Regions from separate parts of the Homo sapiens genome. Here region 1 is linked to region 2. A link means that fine-mapping ties the variant in region 2 to the expression of a gene that starts in the linked region. Tissue or cell type: whole blood. Region 2 holds a variant in brackets; the other region holds the start of a gene. All regions are shown on one strand. Distances are between the middles of the regions. Region 1 holds the start of CHURC1 (churchill domain containing 1). Region 2 overlaps CHURC1-FNTB (CHURC1-FNTB readthrough).

Region 1 (8,338 bases), 21 kb before region 2:
AGATGAAAATAATAGATATGATCAGCATTGTGTCATCACTTCAGACTCTTGGCTTAAGACAGCATAAGACAAAAGAAAAAATAGAAAGAAGGTGTTAAAAGGAGAGTCAAACTGCACTCTTTAGGGAAAATTTTCATCTTACCACAGGGATGTAGTTTAGCACATGTAACTGAGCCAGCAATTAGGGCCATTTTAACATTTAGATTTTCTTTAATCAATTCCTTTTACAAGAGGTGATCTCATACGTAAACTGCAACATGGTTTGTTTGATATATCTCATGGACATCACATATTTATTAGAGACCCATAGGGGCAGGGTATTTCCCCAGAGAAAATTCTATTAGAAGATAAAATTGATTTTGCAAATTTTATTTTATATAGTTACCTATAAGAGAAAATATTTTTCTGTTTATTGTTTTTCTTATGTTACATCACTACTTGTTCATTTCATTCAGGTGCTAATCTTCTGCTTTGTAGCCTCTATTTTCCTTTCTCCCATCTGTCAACCTCAGATACTTTTATATTCCCATTACCACAGTCACACTTTAATTTCTGGTCCTGGCTACCTCTTCCCCCAAGTCTCATTTCCTGCCTCTCTTCTCTGAATGTGGCTAGATTTAAATGGAGGACTTCATTGGATAGATAGCCCTGAGCTCTTGAGCTTTTGTGACCATAAATATGACAACTTTTTTTTTTTTTTTTTGAGATGGAGTCTAGCTCTGTCGCCCAGGCTGGAGTGCAATGGCACGATCTCGGCTCACTGCAACCTCTGACTCCCAGGTTCAAGCGTTGCTCCTGCCTCAGCCTCCTGAGTAGCTGGGATTACAGGCATGCGCCACCATGCCCAGCTAATTTTTGTATTTTTAGTGGAGACAGGGTTTCACCATGTTAGCCAGGAGGGTCTCGATCTCCTGACATCATGATCCACCCGCCTCAGCCTCCCAAAGTGCTGGGATTACAAGCATGAGCCACCATACCCGGCCGACCTTTTTTTTTTTTTATCTTGCTCATTTTAATAACAAGTTATGATATAACTCTGGGAAGGTAAAAAAATTTCATAAATATGTAGATTGTCTTTCATGCCTTAGAATATGAAATCAATTCATGCTAATGGGTGTACTCTTTAAGATCTATGACTTTAGTGTAATTTTTAATTAATTTATTTTTGTTGTGTATATTCTCAGTGATGAGGCAGAAAGCTATACATCTCCCCCTTGTGGTTCCTGCTAACGTCTGCCTTTGGCATGTCCATTTTTTTCCCAGTTCCAGTAAGTCCCAATAAAATGCAGCTAAAATAATCTTTTTTATTTATTTATTTTTTAGGGACAGAGTCTCACTCTGTTGCCCAGGCGGGGGTGCAAGCAGCATGATCATAGCTCATTACAGCCTCAAACTCCTAGGCTCAAGAGATCTTCCCATCTCAGCCTCCTGAGTAGCTAGGACTGCAGGTGCACACCACCACACTAGGCTAATTTAAAAATTTTTTGAGGTCATCACTATGTTGCCCAAGCTGGTCTTGAACTCCTGGCTTCAAGCTACCCTCCTGCCTTGGCGTCCCAAAAGTGCTGGGATTACAGGTGTGAGCCACCACACCCAGCCTAAAATAATTTTAAACCACAACTCTGGCAACACTCTCCTGCTCAAACCTTCAGTTGCTCCCTACCACATGCAGAATAAAATCCAAACTCCTTGGCATGGTTCACCTGAAATTTCTATACAAAACAAAACAAAACTCTGCTTTTTGAAATTCTAAACATGCTTTAAGGCCCAAATTCCTCTTTCCTAATCCTCCCCCTGGGTGTAGTCTCATCATTTTGTGTTCTTATACCCCAATCTGCCAGTAATTATTAGTATTTGTGCTCATTTTATCTCTCAGACTAAATTGTAGCTGGGGAGTAGCAAAGGATTAAAAGTCAGTATTAGGCTTTAAAAACAGAGAAACCATTTAAAAATGGATGAAGAGAAAGAATTGGGCCAGGTGCAGTGGCTCACACCTGTAATCCCAGCACTTTGGAAGGCCGAGGCAGGTGGATCACTTGAGACCAGGAGTTCGAGACCACCCTGGCCAACATGGTGAAACCTCATCTCTACTAAAACTACAAAAAATTAGCCGGTTGTGGTGGTGTGCCCCGGTAGTCCCAGCTACTTGGGAGGCTGAGGCATGAGAATCGCTTGAACCTGGGAGGCAGAGGTTGCAGTGAGCCGAGACTATGCCAGTGCACTCCAGCCGAGGTGACACAGTGAGACTGCCTTAAAAGAGAGAGAGAGAAGAAAAAAAGACTAGCCCTGTCCAATAGGAATATGAGAGCTACATGTGTAATTTTTAATTTTCTAGTAGTCACATTAAAAAAGCAGGTGAAATTAATTTAATAATACATTTTTATTTAACCCAGTACGTCAAAAATTATTTCAACGTAATCATATAAATTTATTAATGAGATTCTTATATATTTTAATACTAAATCTTCCAAATCTGGTGTGCAGAATGTACTCACAGCACAATCTCAGTTCAACTTGCCATATTTAAAGTGCTTTATAGCCATAAGTGGCTAGTGCTACTGTATTAGAAAGAAATTGAGATAAGGATAGCAACAGAGTCCTAGCCCTGGCTGACTACTGAGTAGCTTTGTTACCATAGACAAGACCTTTAACCACTCACTTCTGTGGTTTCCTTATCTGAAAAGAGGAGACATATTTTTCTTACCAACCACATAGGATTGTAATAGCATAAAATTAGAAACTGAAATGAGGACACTTTTGAAAGGTTGAAAATGTCATACAAATGGGAGGTATTATAATTATTCTAAGAATAAGGTAAACTCTGATGGCTCTAGTTCTTGCAGTGTTTCTTAGCACACCTATGATTTTTAATAACAGTTGCAGATACTTACTAGAAGTTGAAATACTAAAGGTTACAACTTCAGTGCTTCCGTGGAAAAATAATTCCCATATTAGCAAACCCATTTAAACTGGTGTGCTTTGAAATGGTTATTAATCTCTTCTTTAAGGAATCTGGATCCCAGAGTCTCCCAGGCTCCCCAATCTTTCTTCCCTGACATGACAGCAATAAAGCAGGGCTGAGGGAGGATGTTGATGTTCCCATTGGGGTAGAGGAGTGTGATAAAGACGCATTGTTCAGAAACAGAGACAAACTTCGGAGATTCGTCTGCAAGTTAATTAGGTCGTTGCGAATAAATAAGATGCTTTCAATACAGAGAGAAAGGATGAGGCGGGGCAACAAGCACAAGCATTTTGAGACCCACAGGATTGGGAAATGATGCAGGAACAACTGACCTGGCCATTTTTCTTTCTTTCTTTCTTTTCTTGGAAGCACATATGTTTATTGGTTTTTTAATCTGTGAACCAATAGGTCATTTATAAATGGATGTGCAAATCTGAAATCAAAATATCTGCAGTCAATTCAATTAGATAATTTTTGAAATCTATTTATTTTTAATATACTTTAAGTTCTAGGGTACATGTGCACAACGTGCAGATTTGTTACCTATGTATAGATATGCCATGTTGGTGTGCTGCACACATTAACTCGTCATTTACATTAAGTATATCTCCTAATGCTATCCCTCCCCCCTCCCCCCACCCCACGACAGGCCCCGGTGTGTGGTGTTCCCCACCCTGTGTCCAAGTGTTCTCATTGTTCAATTCCCACCTATGAGTGAGAACATGCGGTGTTTGGTTTTCTGTCCTTGCGATAGTTTGCTCAGAATGACGGTTTCCAGCTTCATCCGTGTCCCTACAAAGGACATGAACTCATCCTTTTTTATGGCTGCATAGTATTCCATGGTATATATGTGCCACATTTTCTTAATCCAGTCTATCATTGATGGACATTTGCATTGGTTCCAAGTCTTTGGTATTCTGAATAGTGCCACAATAAACATACATGTGCATGTGTCTTTATAGCAGCATGATTTATAATCCTTTGGGTATATACCCAGTAATGGGATGGCTGATGACCTGGCCATTTTTCTATTTACATAGTGCTTGCCCGCCACTGAGGTGCTTCTGTGACACCTGAGAGAGATAGAAATACGTTCCTCGTTGCTATGTCCTCCAGAGGACTCTGGAATGACCAATTATTACTAATATTTTAAGTGTTTTTTTAGGAGATTTTCTGCAGCACTCTGAGTGTCTCTTCCCAAACACTTCGGTTACTGTTTATTCACCTGCTGAGATCTGGTCTCTTATTCACTCTCATTGCCTTAAGAAATGGTACAGAAATGTATTCATTAACATTTCAGATTTGTATATGCGGTAGCGAGAAATAATTCCCTTTCTTGTGTGTCGTGATTTGCCTTTCTTGTCAGCCTAAGCTCAGGAAGGTGTCTGTGAGAACTTCGCTCAGCCCAAGATCCCTTTCCCTTCCCGTCACATCTGTTAGCGCACAAGATTTCTTCGTCTGTCTCCAAAGGTTTCTGAAGCCCCACCCTTTGCCCACGCACGGTGCCAAGGAGACTGTGCCCTGCCTTGACAACAGTTGCTAAGGGGCGGAGACTTCGGCTCGGTTCCCGAGACGGAATACCCAGGAGTCGAGTACTTGGGCGCATGCGGCAACCGTATCTCAGTTCTCGCGAGGTTTCGTCTTCCCGGAAGCGTTGGAGGACATTCCCTGTTGACTGCGTCGCGATGTGTGGCGACTGTGTGGAGAAGGAATATCCCAACCGGGTGAGCGACTGGGCGCTCCCTTGGCCCGCGGGCGGCCCCCGAGGTGTCTCATATCCAAGGCTGGCCTTCCCAGAGAGGCCGTACGTGGGGCGGACTCGGCCGCACTGCCGGTCCCGGTGACCCAGTAGCGGTATTTAGGCACACCAGGGATGGCCTGTGGCGGTCTGCACCTCTGGTACCCGCCCTGGCGGCTGACCTCAGTTGTAGTGGCCGTTCTCTTGAGCTCCAAGGAGCAACAGAGGAACCCCACCACCACCACAACCCCCGTCGACAACCGAGGGACTCCCCCACCCCCACTTCCGGTCTCATCCTCAAGCTCGATTTGATGAAGTACAATTTTCTTACCGAATTCTAGCGCTGGAGGGGACCTCTGTGGTCATCTGTTCTAACACTTTTGCAGATGAAGAAACCGATGCCCAGAGAGGGGAAATCACTTGCCCAAGTTCACATTCTAGTTGCATGGATGAGAGCCAGGACTAGAATTTAGGTTTCCTGCCTGTTACCGCCTTCTGAATCTCAGTTACTTTCAGGTTCAGGAGTTTGCAAAGCTTGTCTATTCTCATTCATTCAAGGCATCCTTGTTGAACATTTATATATGTGTAGTTAGATTACTTTGCTAGGCCAGAAAGGGATTATTTCTCCTCTCTTTGAGACAGGGTGCTGCTGTTGCCCAGGCTGGTCTCAAATTCCTGGGATCAAGTGATCCTCCCGCCTTGGCCTCCGAAAGTGCTGGGATTACTGGCATGAGCCACCACGTCCAGCTGGATTATTTGTTTCAGAGAAGAAATTAAAAGGCACCTTTGGTGCTGCCTAACAGCTTACAGTTTTGGGGAGTATGTGACTAACAAAAAATGAGTAGCTCAGTTCAGAAATGCTATTCAAGTTTAGGGAAAGGGGAGGGCAATAGGGGATAGTGCTGTTCTCCCCTGAGAAAAGGTGGACATCATCTAAGACTTGAAGGACAGTTGTAATTAGGGTAGAAAAGAAGGTGAGGAGCTGGAGGATGGGGGAAAATTACAGAAATGGAATTTGTGCATTGGTTGGGAAGGAGGGAGAAAGTCTCTGTAGTTCCTTATGTCTTAGTATCTTATGGGTAATACTTAGGCTTTTGAGTAGCATGTATAACAGTATGAATTCTCCTGTAGTACAACTACTTTGAAAAAGCGGGTGAGCCTTATAAAATACAGACATGACCCAGTGATTCCCATTCTAGAAAAATGCATGTGTATATGCTTCTGAAGACTTTTATAAATAAGTGTTCATAACAGCATTATTTTTGTAGTAGATTGGAAAAGTAACTGATACATTCATTAGAATGGAACACCATTAATGAATGAGGAATGGAAGTGAATGAATTAGAGCAGTAGTTCTCTACCAGGAGTGATTTTTGGCTCTTAGGAGACATTTGGCAATATCCAGAGACATTTTTTGGGTGTCAAAAGGGGAAGTACTACTGACTGCTAATGGGTGATGCAAGGGATGCCGCTAAACATCCAGCAATACATGGGACAGCCACCACAACAAAGTATCACTCCCAATGTCAATAGTGTGGAGGTAGAGAAACCCTGAATTATAGCCGTGAAACCAAACTAGAATTACACAGCAGCCTGAAAAGTCTTACAAATAGTGTTGATGAAAGAACACATAAAGTATAATTCAAAAAGAGGCAAACCAAAATATATTATTCAAGGATGTACCTGGGTGGTAAAACTGTAAGGAACGTATACAATTACTGTTAAGTCGAGATAGTGGTTACTCCTAAGGGATTAGGGTGTGATCAAGAAGGGTCACATGAGAAAAAGTCTTCCCGGGTGCAAGCAGTGTTTTATTTCTTGATTTGGGTGGTGGTTCTACAGATGTACACTTTATAATCATTTCTTGTTCGCTACATTTATGTTTCATGTACTTTACTATGTACTATTTCATTTTTTTAAAGTTTAAAAAGATTTTTATGAAACCAGTAATAAACATGAGCTATTATGAGACCATGAGGGAGGAGTTTGCAGTAGAGAATATTAAAGAGATTAGGTTGGATTCTTTTTTGTTGTTGTTTTTGTTTTTGAGATGGAGTCTTGCTCTGTCGCCCAGGTTGGAGTGCAGTGGCATGATCTCGGCTCACTGCAAGCTCCGCCTCACTGGTTCATGCCATTCTCCTGCCTCAGCCTCCCGAGTAGCTCGGACTGCAGGTGCCCACCACCATGCCCAGCTAATTTTTTTGTATTTTTAGTAGAGACAGGGTTTCGCCTTGTTAGCCAGGATGGTCTCGATCTCCTGACCTCGTGATCCACCTGCCTCGGCCTCCCAAAGTGCTAGGATTACAGGCGTGAGCCACCGCGCCGGGCCTTAGGTTGGATTCTTAAGAGTGGAGTTATTGTAAAACTTAAAAGTCATATTGAGAAGTTTAGAGTTTACATTTTAGGCATTGGGCCACCATCAAAATTTTAATAGAGAAATGATTCTGAAATCTGTTATTTAGGAAAATGAATCTTATGGCTGAATGTTGAAATGGTGGGGTAGAGGGTGTGTAAAGACAGAACTCCACAGGGCATTTGAGGAGCCATGGCAACAGTGGTGTAGGCATGAGATAATGAAGACCTTATTTCAAAGAAAGAATTAGGTTGGGCACGGTTCTCACACCTGTAATCCCAGCACTTTGGGAGGCCAAGGCAGGTGGATCACTTGAGCCCAGGAGTTTGAGACCAGTCTCAAACATGGCAAAACCCTGTCTCTACAAAAAATACAAATAGTCTGGGCACGGTGGCTCACGCCTATAATCCCAGCACTTTGGGAGGCCAAGGCTGGCAGATCACCTGAGGTCAGGAGTTCGAGACCAGCTTGGCCAACATGGCGAAACCCCGTCTCTACTAAAAATACAAAAATTAGCTGGGTGTGGTGGGAGGCGCCTGTAATCCCAGCTACTTGGGAGGCTGAGGCGGTAGAATCGCTTGAACCTGGGAGGCAGAGGTTGCAGTGAGCCGAGATCACACCACTGCTCTCCACCATGGGTGACAAGAGCAAAACTCCGTCTCAAAACAAATAAACAAACAAAAAAAAACCACCACAAATATTAGCCAAGCGTGGTGGCATGCACCTGTAGTCCTAGCTACTTGGAGGTTGAGGTGGGAGGTTGCAGTGAGCCATGATCGTGCCATTGCACTCCAGCCTGGGCAACAGAGCGAGACCCTGTTGAAAAAAAAAAGAATTAACAAGATTCAACCTGTTTAATGTAGAAGTGAATAAGGGGAGACCTATACATGATCACATGATCTCAGGATTTTCAATCTAGGCAACTGGGATGTTGGAAGTATCATTACAGAAATTGGAGGCATATGGGAAGAAAAAACAAAATTGGGGACAAATGGTCAAATTGTTATTAATATCATGCTTCACCTGAGGTTGAGAATATCCGAAGGGTCAAGTGAAGATATAAGACTGCAGTTTGGGTACAACTATGTAGATAGATGAGTCAGTCAAATACAAGTGTCAAAATAGGATTTGTTCTCTGAGGAAAAAAATGTAGAGAATCAAGGACTGAGCTCCAAAGACTAAATTAACTTCAGAAATGAAAATAAAGTATAAGGAAGAATAGTAGAAAAAGGGATCGAGGTGATTGGAAAACCAGGAGAGTGCCTTTCAAAGGCACTTTTCTCTG
Region 2 (8,338 bases):
CTAGCAAACTTAGCATCAGGTGTGGAAATTCTAGAAGACTTAACATAGATGTTTGTTTTTGTACAGAGAAAAAGGCTTTTAAATGAAAGGTTTCAAAGAAATATGTCTCTGTAGTTTATGACTGTTAAATATTCTAGAAAGGGAAAGCTATAAGAATAGGACTTTGGGCTGGATGCAGTGGCTCACACCTGTAATCCTGTCACTTTGGGAGGCCAAGGTGGGAGGATCACTTGAGCATAGGAGTTTGAGGCCACCCTGGGCAACATAGTGAGACCCCATCTCTACAAAAAATTTAAAAATTAGCCAGGCGTGATGCCGAGTGCTTGTAATCTCAATTACTTGGGGGTCTGAGGTGGGATGATCACTTGAGCACAGGAGGTCAAGGCTGCAGTGAACCATCATTGCACCACTGCACTCCAATCTGGGCAACACAGTGATACCGTGTCTAAAAAAAAAAAGAAAAAGGACCTTGCCCTAAGGGTTTTTGCCTAAAACAAAATCTCCTCTATTACCAATCTGGGCATTTATTAAGCCTGGGAAACAAACTTCTTAAATGGATCAAATTCCCAGACAACTAGCCATCTGAAAATGAGGCAGGACATACTAGTGAATTTAACATAATTGTTTATTTTCCTAGGGTAGATAAAAATAGCTTTTTCAGTTTGGGAATTTTCTCCTTTCAAAAAATTGTTTCTGTTGTGTATTAGTGTTAAATATGCTAGAAAGGAACAGCTGTAAGAATAGGAATTTGTCCATAGGGACCCACACTCAAATTGCTTCATTACTTTAAATAGCACTAAGCTAAATATATGTGCTTTCTGAGAAATAGCCATGTATTTCCAAGATGACATTTATGTATCAATTTATATAAACAACAGGCTCTGGAATATACAGAATAAGCCTAAGACATTGCTGATACATGTTGAAGAAATTGATCCAATGTACAGAAAGAATATTCATGACAATTTGTAGAGAACATCTTAACTAGAGTAAGTTATAAAGCATCTTTTTCCCTGTTCCTCTAGGTAATTATGCACTTTATCTTGTTCTAGGAGTATACCATGCTGTGTCTGTTATGCGGCAAAGCCGAAGATACTATCAGTATTCTCCCTGATGACCCCCGACAAATGACTCTCTTATTCTAAGGATCCTTCTACAGATCTGTTATAACTATATTGTGTTGGTTTACAATACAGCAAGCCTGATGGTTTGTCTTATTTCATTCATACTGAAAATTCTTTGCATATTTTTTTTCTGCTTAGACTTACTTATTCTTTGAGGAAAAAAGGTAATGTAGGAGCTCATTGTTCTCTAGAGCTGAGCTCTTCTGCTAAAGTTCAAAGTTCACATCAGTGTAGCCAGAGTGAAGCATCTTTGTTAGCAGTTATGTGGTCAGAAAACAACTAGAATGGGAGCACACCTGGTGCCCAGATTTTGGTTTCCAATAAAAGGAACCAGGACTCCTTAGAAAATGAACTGATTCTAGAACTGGGATATGAACTGTACAAGATGAGCCTAGAGTATCTTGTGCCACAGAAAAATGAAGTACTGAAATTAAAAAAAAAAAATCATAGTGATTGGGAGTATGTCAGCATGATCGAACTGAAGGATCTCTGAAAGGCCACAGCTGGAGCAATTTGAGTAACAAAATAAAGTAGTATTGGGTTATAACCCAAACTATATAATAAATATTTACAAGCCCAAACTAATATAAATGATTGAATGGGAACAAATCTCTTGTGCAGAAGAATTTCAAATAATTTATGTAGATACTCCCCACTTAGTGGGCTCTGCATAGTGACTTCCTTGCAGAGTATAATATGGAAAGGGGGGAAAAGAGTAACTTTACAGTGGAGAAATCTGACAGACACCAGCTCAGCCAGGTGATTGAGGTTAACATCATCCATGATAAGCCCTTTTGATAGCATGTATCCTTGATAGCATCACATCATACAGAATGTGATAAGAATGGCACTTTACCTCTGTGGTCCTCCTCCCCAGAACTCAGAACCCAAGTCTGATCAGGAGAAAAACATCACACAAATTCCAATTGAGAAGCATTCTTTAAAATACCTAACCAGTACTTCTCAAAACTATCAAGGCCATAAAAAACAAGGAAAATCTGAGACATGGTCACAGCCAAGAGGAGCCTGAGAAGACATGACTGCTAGATGTAATGTGGTATCCTACATGGAATTATATACCACGAAAAGAAAAAAAGGTCATTTGGTAGAAACTAGGGAAATCTGAATACAGTGTGGACTTCAGTTAATATAAATGAGAAAATGGTTTCATTGGCTTTAAAGGGATTTTAGAATATCTTACTTTGCATAGTTTCATGAGCACTGGCCAGGAGGTTATAAACTGGCATTTAGGCCTCTCTGCCATTTAGTAGCAGTATAGTCATTAAGCAAAGCATTACTCTGGACTTTATTGTCCTGTTTCTATCAAATTGGACTAACAAAAATTGATATAATACATTCATCACAGTATTGTTAGGAGATTTAAATGAATTAGTGAATGTAAGATACTTTAGAAAGCATGTAAAGTACTAGAAACAATGAGGTGGCTTCAATTAGTGCTCATTCTGAGACCTAAATTTAAAGGGTCAGGCATTAGAAACAAAAGTGTTTCTTCATATCTAGGAGATTTGGAAATTCTGAACTAAGGTCTTATAAGAACAAGAAATGAGCAAAGTGTTCATTGTAGATACTAGGGAAAAGCTTTGTTGAATAACAGTAATGATGATAATATCTGAGCTTTATTAAGTACTTACTACATGCTAAGAGCTTTTTAAGCACTTATTTAATCCTCATTAACAAATTCATAAGGTAGGTGCTATTGATAGTTTAGCCATAACCAGATATGGCTTGTTATTTGTAAGTTATCATGAAAAGGTTTATATTCACTATTCTTTATTTCAGTGTAGCACTTTTAGAGCCAAAAAAACTCAGGCACAAAGAAGTTAAATAACTTGCCGGGTGCGGTGGCTCACCCCTGTAATCCCAGCACTTTGGGAGGCCAAAGCAGGCGGATCACCTGAGGTCAGGAGTTTGAGACCAGCCGGGCCAACATGGTGCAACCTCGTCTTTACTAAAAATACAAAAACAAAAATTAGCCAGGGGTGGTGGTATGCACCTGCAGTCCCAGCAACATGGGAGGCTGAACAGGAGAATCGCTTGAACCCGCGACAGGGAGGTTGTGATGAGCCAAGGTCATGCCACTGCACTCCAGCCTGGGAGACAGAGCAAGACTCCATCTCAAAAACAAAAACAAAACAAAACAACAACAAAAAAAGAAGTTAAATAACTTGTTTAAGATCACACAGCTAGTGCAGTTACCCCCTCTCAGTAATTATGTTTGGCAAATATGAAATACAAGGATCTGGCAAGGTTAGGAAGAGGTTAAGAATATCAGTGACAGTACTCTGAGGCATCTGGGCATGTCAGATGAAGATTTATTATTCAGAAAAGTTAAGTCAGCTGTTGCAGGGATCAGTTGTTTTATTCCTGGAAAATGTTTTTCATTTTGCTGCAAATCTATATCTGACCTGCTGAGGAAATCGTTTGGTGAAATGAATCCAGAAAGCAGAGAAAATGCTTCATTACTTTAAATAGCAGCATTAAGCCCATTATAGCCTCTGAATTGTCCCTTCCTTGAGTTTGCTAATGCTTCCAACTTAGTCATTTGAAGCCCAAGAGTCTAATTTTATATGCCCTGCCAATGTCCTCATCTATTGCAGAATGTATAATTATCTATTTGTTTTGGACTATATGTTACAAAAATTTAAAACATAAGATCCTCTCTCTATATTTCATTATTGGTGAACCCACATTGTGCTGTGTTTTGTGATATTTTATCATTTTCTAGATTCTTATGTGGATCTAATAACGACCACTTGAACCCAGTTTCACAGAATCCTTATTTTTCTGTTCAAATTAGGAATTAGGGACATGGATGAAATTGGAAATCTTCATTCTCAGTAAACTATCGCAAGGACAAAAAACCAAACACCACATGTTCTCACTCATAGATAGGAATTGAACAATGAGAACACATGGAGACAGGAAGGGGAACATCACACTCTAGGGACTGTTGTGGGGTGAGGGGAGGGGTGAGGGATAGCATTAGGAGATATACCTGATGCTAAATGACGAGTTAGTGGGTGCAGCACACCAGCATGGCACATGTATACGTATGTAACTAACCTGCACATCGTGCACATGTACCCTAAAACTTAAAGTATAATAATAATAAAATAAAAAAAAAGGAATTAGGCAAAACATGGCTCTTCTTTTTACTTTCCTTCCTGAGATATAAGAAGGAAGAGAAATCACCTGTGGGGATAATTGGAAAC[A/G]TGGGGATAATTGGAAACGTGGGCTTATCTTGGCACCTCCTTTTTCTCTAATCATTCTGTGATGTACAGGTCTGGCTAGTTAGGCTCCTGAAGTTAAAAGCTCAGCCACTATTTGTTGTTTTGTTTGATCTAGCTCTTTCTCACATGGTTTTAGGTTCTCCCAGTACTAATTTAATTGACATCAGATAGCTTGGGCACAACCAGATATGGCTTGTTATTTGTAAGTTACCATGAAGAGGTTTATGTTCACTGTCCTTTATTTCAGTGTATCAAAAGTCCTTTCGGTTTCATTCTTTCATGTTGTGAGCAGGGCTAGTTATTTGAGGCGCTCAATTTAAAAATGTATGTTTTTTTTTTACTGTAGTACAAGACTGTTGTAAGATACAGTATAGTTGGATAGAAAAGGAATTAAAAGATCTGGGTCTAGAATTAGCTTTGTCACCTGCTAATGATGGGACACTGAGCAAGTCACTTATCCTGTCTGTACCTCAGTGTCTTCAGTGGAAAACTAGAAACCATCATGCCTCCACAGAATTTTTAAATCTAATGATTTTTAAATCTAATGCTGTGTGCAGGCAGCTGTCAGTGGTCTTTATGAAGAAAAATCTGAGCTAGAAGAAAGCACTGTTGTGTTATGGTTAAGAGTAGAGGCTTTGGAGTCAGACTGACCTGGCTTTAACTTTCAGCTTTGCTGCTTCCTAAGCTGTGTGTCCTTGGCAAGTGTCTTGCCCAATTACCTTTTCTTTTAATAGAAATAACAATTTTTCATGGGATCTCTATGAGGGTTAAATAACCTAGTGTATATAAAGTACCTAGCCCAGTCTGTGCCCATAGTAAATATTAAATGAATGGTAGTTTGGATGATGGTTGTGATGGTGATTATAATAAAGTTCTAGAGTTTGACTCAGTGTTTTTGAGACAAGGTCTCATCCAGGCTGGAGTGCAGTGGTGCAATCATAGCTCACTGCAGCCTCGAACTCCCAGGCGCAAGCAATTCTCCCACCCTAGCTGCCTGAGTAGCTGAAACCATTACAGGTGTACATCACCATGCTCAGCCGATTTTTTTTTTTTTTTTTTAATTTTTTGTAGAGACGAGGTCTCACTGTGTAGCCCAGGCTACATAGTGAGCTCCTGGGCTCAGGCCATCTTCCCGCCTCAACTTCCCAAAGTGTTGGGATTATAGGCTTGAGCCACCATACTGGGCCTCAGTGTCTCATAAACTAAGGAGAGATAGCTATGGGAACATAGTCATGAAGATAATTATCGATTTCAGTGTCTTTACCCTGGCCTCCTAAAATCACTTGTTCCAAGCTCTGGTTTTTTTGTTTTGTTTTTTGTTTTTGTAAGAGCCCTCAGGTTAGTGATTCTCTCTGTCCCTCCTCTGAGTTGAATAGCATTATCTCAGCACTTCTGGGAGAGTTGTTAAGGAGACTTCCCCCTCCTTCTGGGTGCCCCTAGGGAAATCTGATTAAAAGATTTTTGTTTATCTAGAAAAGTGGGTGATATTTTAAAGCTTTGCCTTGTCTGTTTATGATCACAAGCTAATACTTCTGAGGATGATAAGGGGGACAAACAAGATGAAGAATAAAGGAAAGGAAACACTTTCTAATTTCTCTTCATTTTAACAACAGCACAACTAAATATTTGGTAAACCTAAACATCCTTTTAAAATAGAATCTTCCAGTCTTGCCTTCCCTGTTTCCTCCTGAGCTGAATAGATCAGGTTCTGTCTGAAGCAAATAGTGTTTCCCCTCCCAAGTGAAGAGCCTTCATTCTAGCTTTATGGCCTTCTCTTGACTTTCTGCAGAATAACTTATACTGTAATTCCCATTCCTTTGGGAATCCCTAAATAATTCTTTGAACTTGGGCCTCAAGGGAAAGACTGAACACATTGTACTGGTGTCTCAGGCTCTAAGTTGCCTGTGGCATGTTTCCAACACCCGAGATAGCTGGCTCTGTTACTGGATGTAACAACAGGCTATGGTACTGTCAAGGTGATGACTAGCATCCAAGAAGAATTCTCTATTTTGTCAGGAAAGCAATTTGTCTGCAGTTACTGCTCTAAAATCAGTACATGGTCCTGCCCCATAATAATTCATACCCCAGCTGTTGACTTTAAGAGCAGGAATCTGAAAGGCTTGAGGTTTCAAGAGTGAAGGTAAGGGTAGCCTTAAGTTAGCAGAAGGCCCTGCAGAAAGGTGTCAGGGGATTCCCACTGTAATACTCAGGTTACCCTTTTGAAATAAAGCACTGTTGTTGACAGGTTTAGTTGAAGGTCAGAAAGTGGGGATCCTAAACATCTATTCCACATTCACTCTCATATGATGCAAGTGCTTAGAAAATGGTTAGGGTAAGCAGAACAATTAAAGGAAAAACATTTTCCCTTCAGCATTGGGCTTCTCAAGCAGTGTGTCCAGTTTGGAAAACTGTCCCTTCAGGGTTTCAGTGAATAGAAGTGAAAATATTCCATCTAGTGGTCAAAGAAGGGAAGATGAAATGAGAAGTTTCCAGGATGAGGTCTGTGGGGCAAGGTGACAGGCAGTGGCCTCTCAGCAGGTATCTTTTCCAGAACATGATAGAACCTGACCTTGGCGGTGGTGATATGTTTTGATTATGTCTGCACTGGATGAGGAATTGGGGACACCATCCTTGCAAGGCCTCTGAGCAAAACTGTCCTCACAGTGAGGAATAATGATGTTGCAAATGGCAGATTATAAACAGCCTGACTCTGAAGGGAGGCTCTCTCCCATCCCCAACCCCTTCCTTCTTACAGAGGAAGAAATGAGTCCAGTCATTCCTGCCTCTATTTGTCTGGAGCCTGAATTTGTGAATATGTGATTTTGAGAAGAATGAGGGTGTAATGTGAACTTTATTTATTTATTTTGAGACGGAGTCTCACTCTGTCGCCCAGGCTGGAGTGTAGTGGCGCCGCCATCTTGGCTCACTGCAGCCTCCACCTCCCGGGTTCAAATGAGTCTCTCACCTCAGCCTCCTGAGTAGCTGGGATTACAGGCGTGCGCCACCACACCTGGCTAATTTTTTGTATTTTTAGTACAGACAGAGTTTCATCATGTTGGCCAGGCTGGTCTCGAACTCCTGACCTCAAGTGATCCGCCTGTCTCGGCCTCTCAAAGTGCTGGGATTATAGGTGTGAGCCACCACACCCGGGCCATGAACTTTAAAAAGGAGGGAGAATCAGTCTAGCAAAGGATCAAACACCCGAGATGTTTGATGATCAGGAAAAAGATAAAGTGCTGTTTGTGTTCTCAGTAACTACACCCTCTATGCCCTTGCTATTGGTAAACATTAACTAAGCTGACTGCCCAGGAATTTCCCAAGGCACAAGTCAGATCTAGTTGGCCCAGTACCCACAGTGCTATTGATGCTTCCTGACTGTAATCCTCCTAACAGCCTCCCAATATCCCCAACCAAAGGGCTCATTGTCTTTTCCTCCTCTACCTCCCATTATCACTTTCTCTTTTTCCCCAGTTCTGAAGAAGAGCTGTAAAGGAATAATATAATTCACATTTCCCGTAACTGCACCTGCCACTGCAGACCTTGGCCAGCGCTTGCTTTCCTGTCAGTAATTAGGGCATCCCTTGATCCGTCAGATCCTCCCCTCCCAAAGCTTTGTGTGCTAGCAGCTCCTCTATCCCACCTGCAGTTTGTAGCTTCCCTCCGCCCTCTGTCAAAGAACACACACACAGGCTGGCCGTTTCCACACCTGCCCTTTATTGGTCTCTTCTAGCAGAGTGGCTCCAGGCCCTTCACGCCTCTCAGACACCACCCATGAGGGTTTAGGAAGGTGCCATCATTCTGTGAAGGCCCAGAGCTTACCCAAGTCTTGGAGCCCAAGTTGAATCACCAACCAGAGGGTTGGGAGAGGAAAAGGAAACAGGCAGAGGGGAAAGGCAAGGCTCTGCAGTGAAGGGGACTGATATCAAGGGAATGCTGAGGTCCAGCAGTGTCTCCTGAAGGCAT

Evidence for each region.
Region 1: it holds the start of CHURC1, and the variant in region 2 is fine-mapped to the expression of CHURC1 in whole blood (INTERVAL, PIP above 0.99).

What each region holds. Positions count from the first base shown.
Region 1 is chr14:64,909,849-64,918,186 of GRCh38, forward strand. It overlaps CHURC1 (churchill domain containing 1), which reads left to right and starts at 4,607. Exons shown (of 4, transcript NM_001386928.1): 1 at 4,607-4,686. The coding sequence starts at 4,648. CHURC1-FNTB (CHURC1-FNTB readthrough) reads left to right here and starts at 4,513. Exons shown (of 14, transcript NM_001202559.1): 1 at 4,513-4,686. The coding sequence starts at 4,567. RefSeq lists enhancers at 4,407-4,456, 4,607-4,876.
Region 2 is chr14:64,931,086-64,939,423 of GRCh38, forward strand. The region is part of intron 3 of CHURC1-FNTB (CHURC1-FNTB readthrough); the gene reads left to right. It overlaps CHURC1 (churchill domain containing 1), which reads left to right. Exons shown (of 4, transcript NM_001386928.1): 4 at 1,053-4,283. The coding sequence ends at 1,145. GPX2 (glutathione peroxidase 2) reads right to left here. Exons shown (of 2, transcript NM_002083.4): 2 at 8,073-8,338. Among named protein-coding and RNA genes, the nearest start is that of GPX2, 7.5 kb to the right of the region's middle. The variant A/G (reference allele first, on the strand shown) is at 4,358.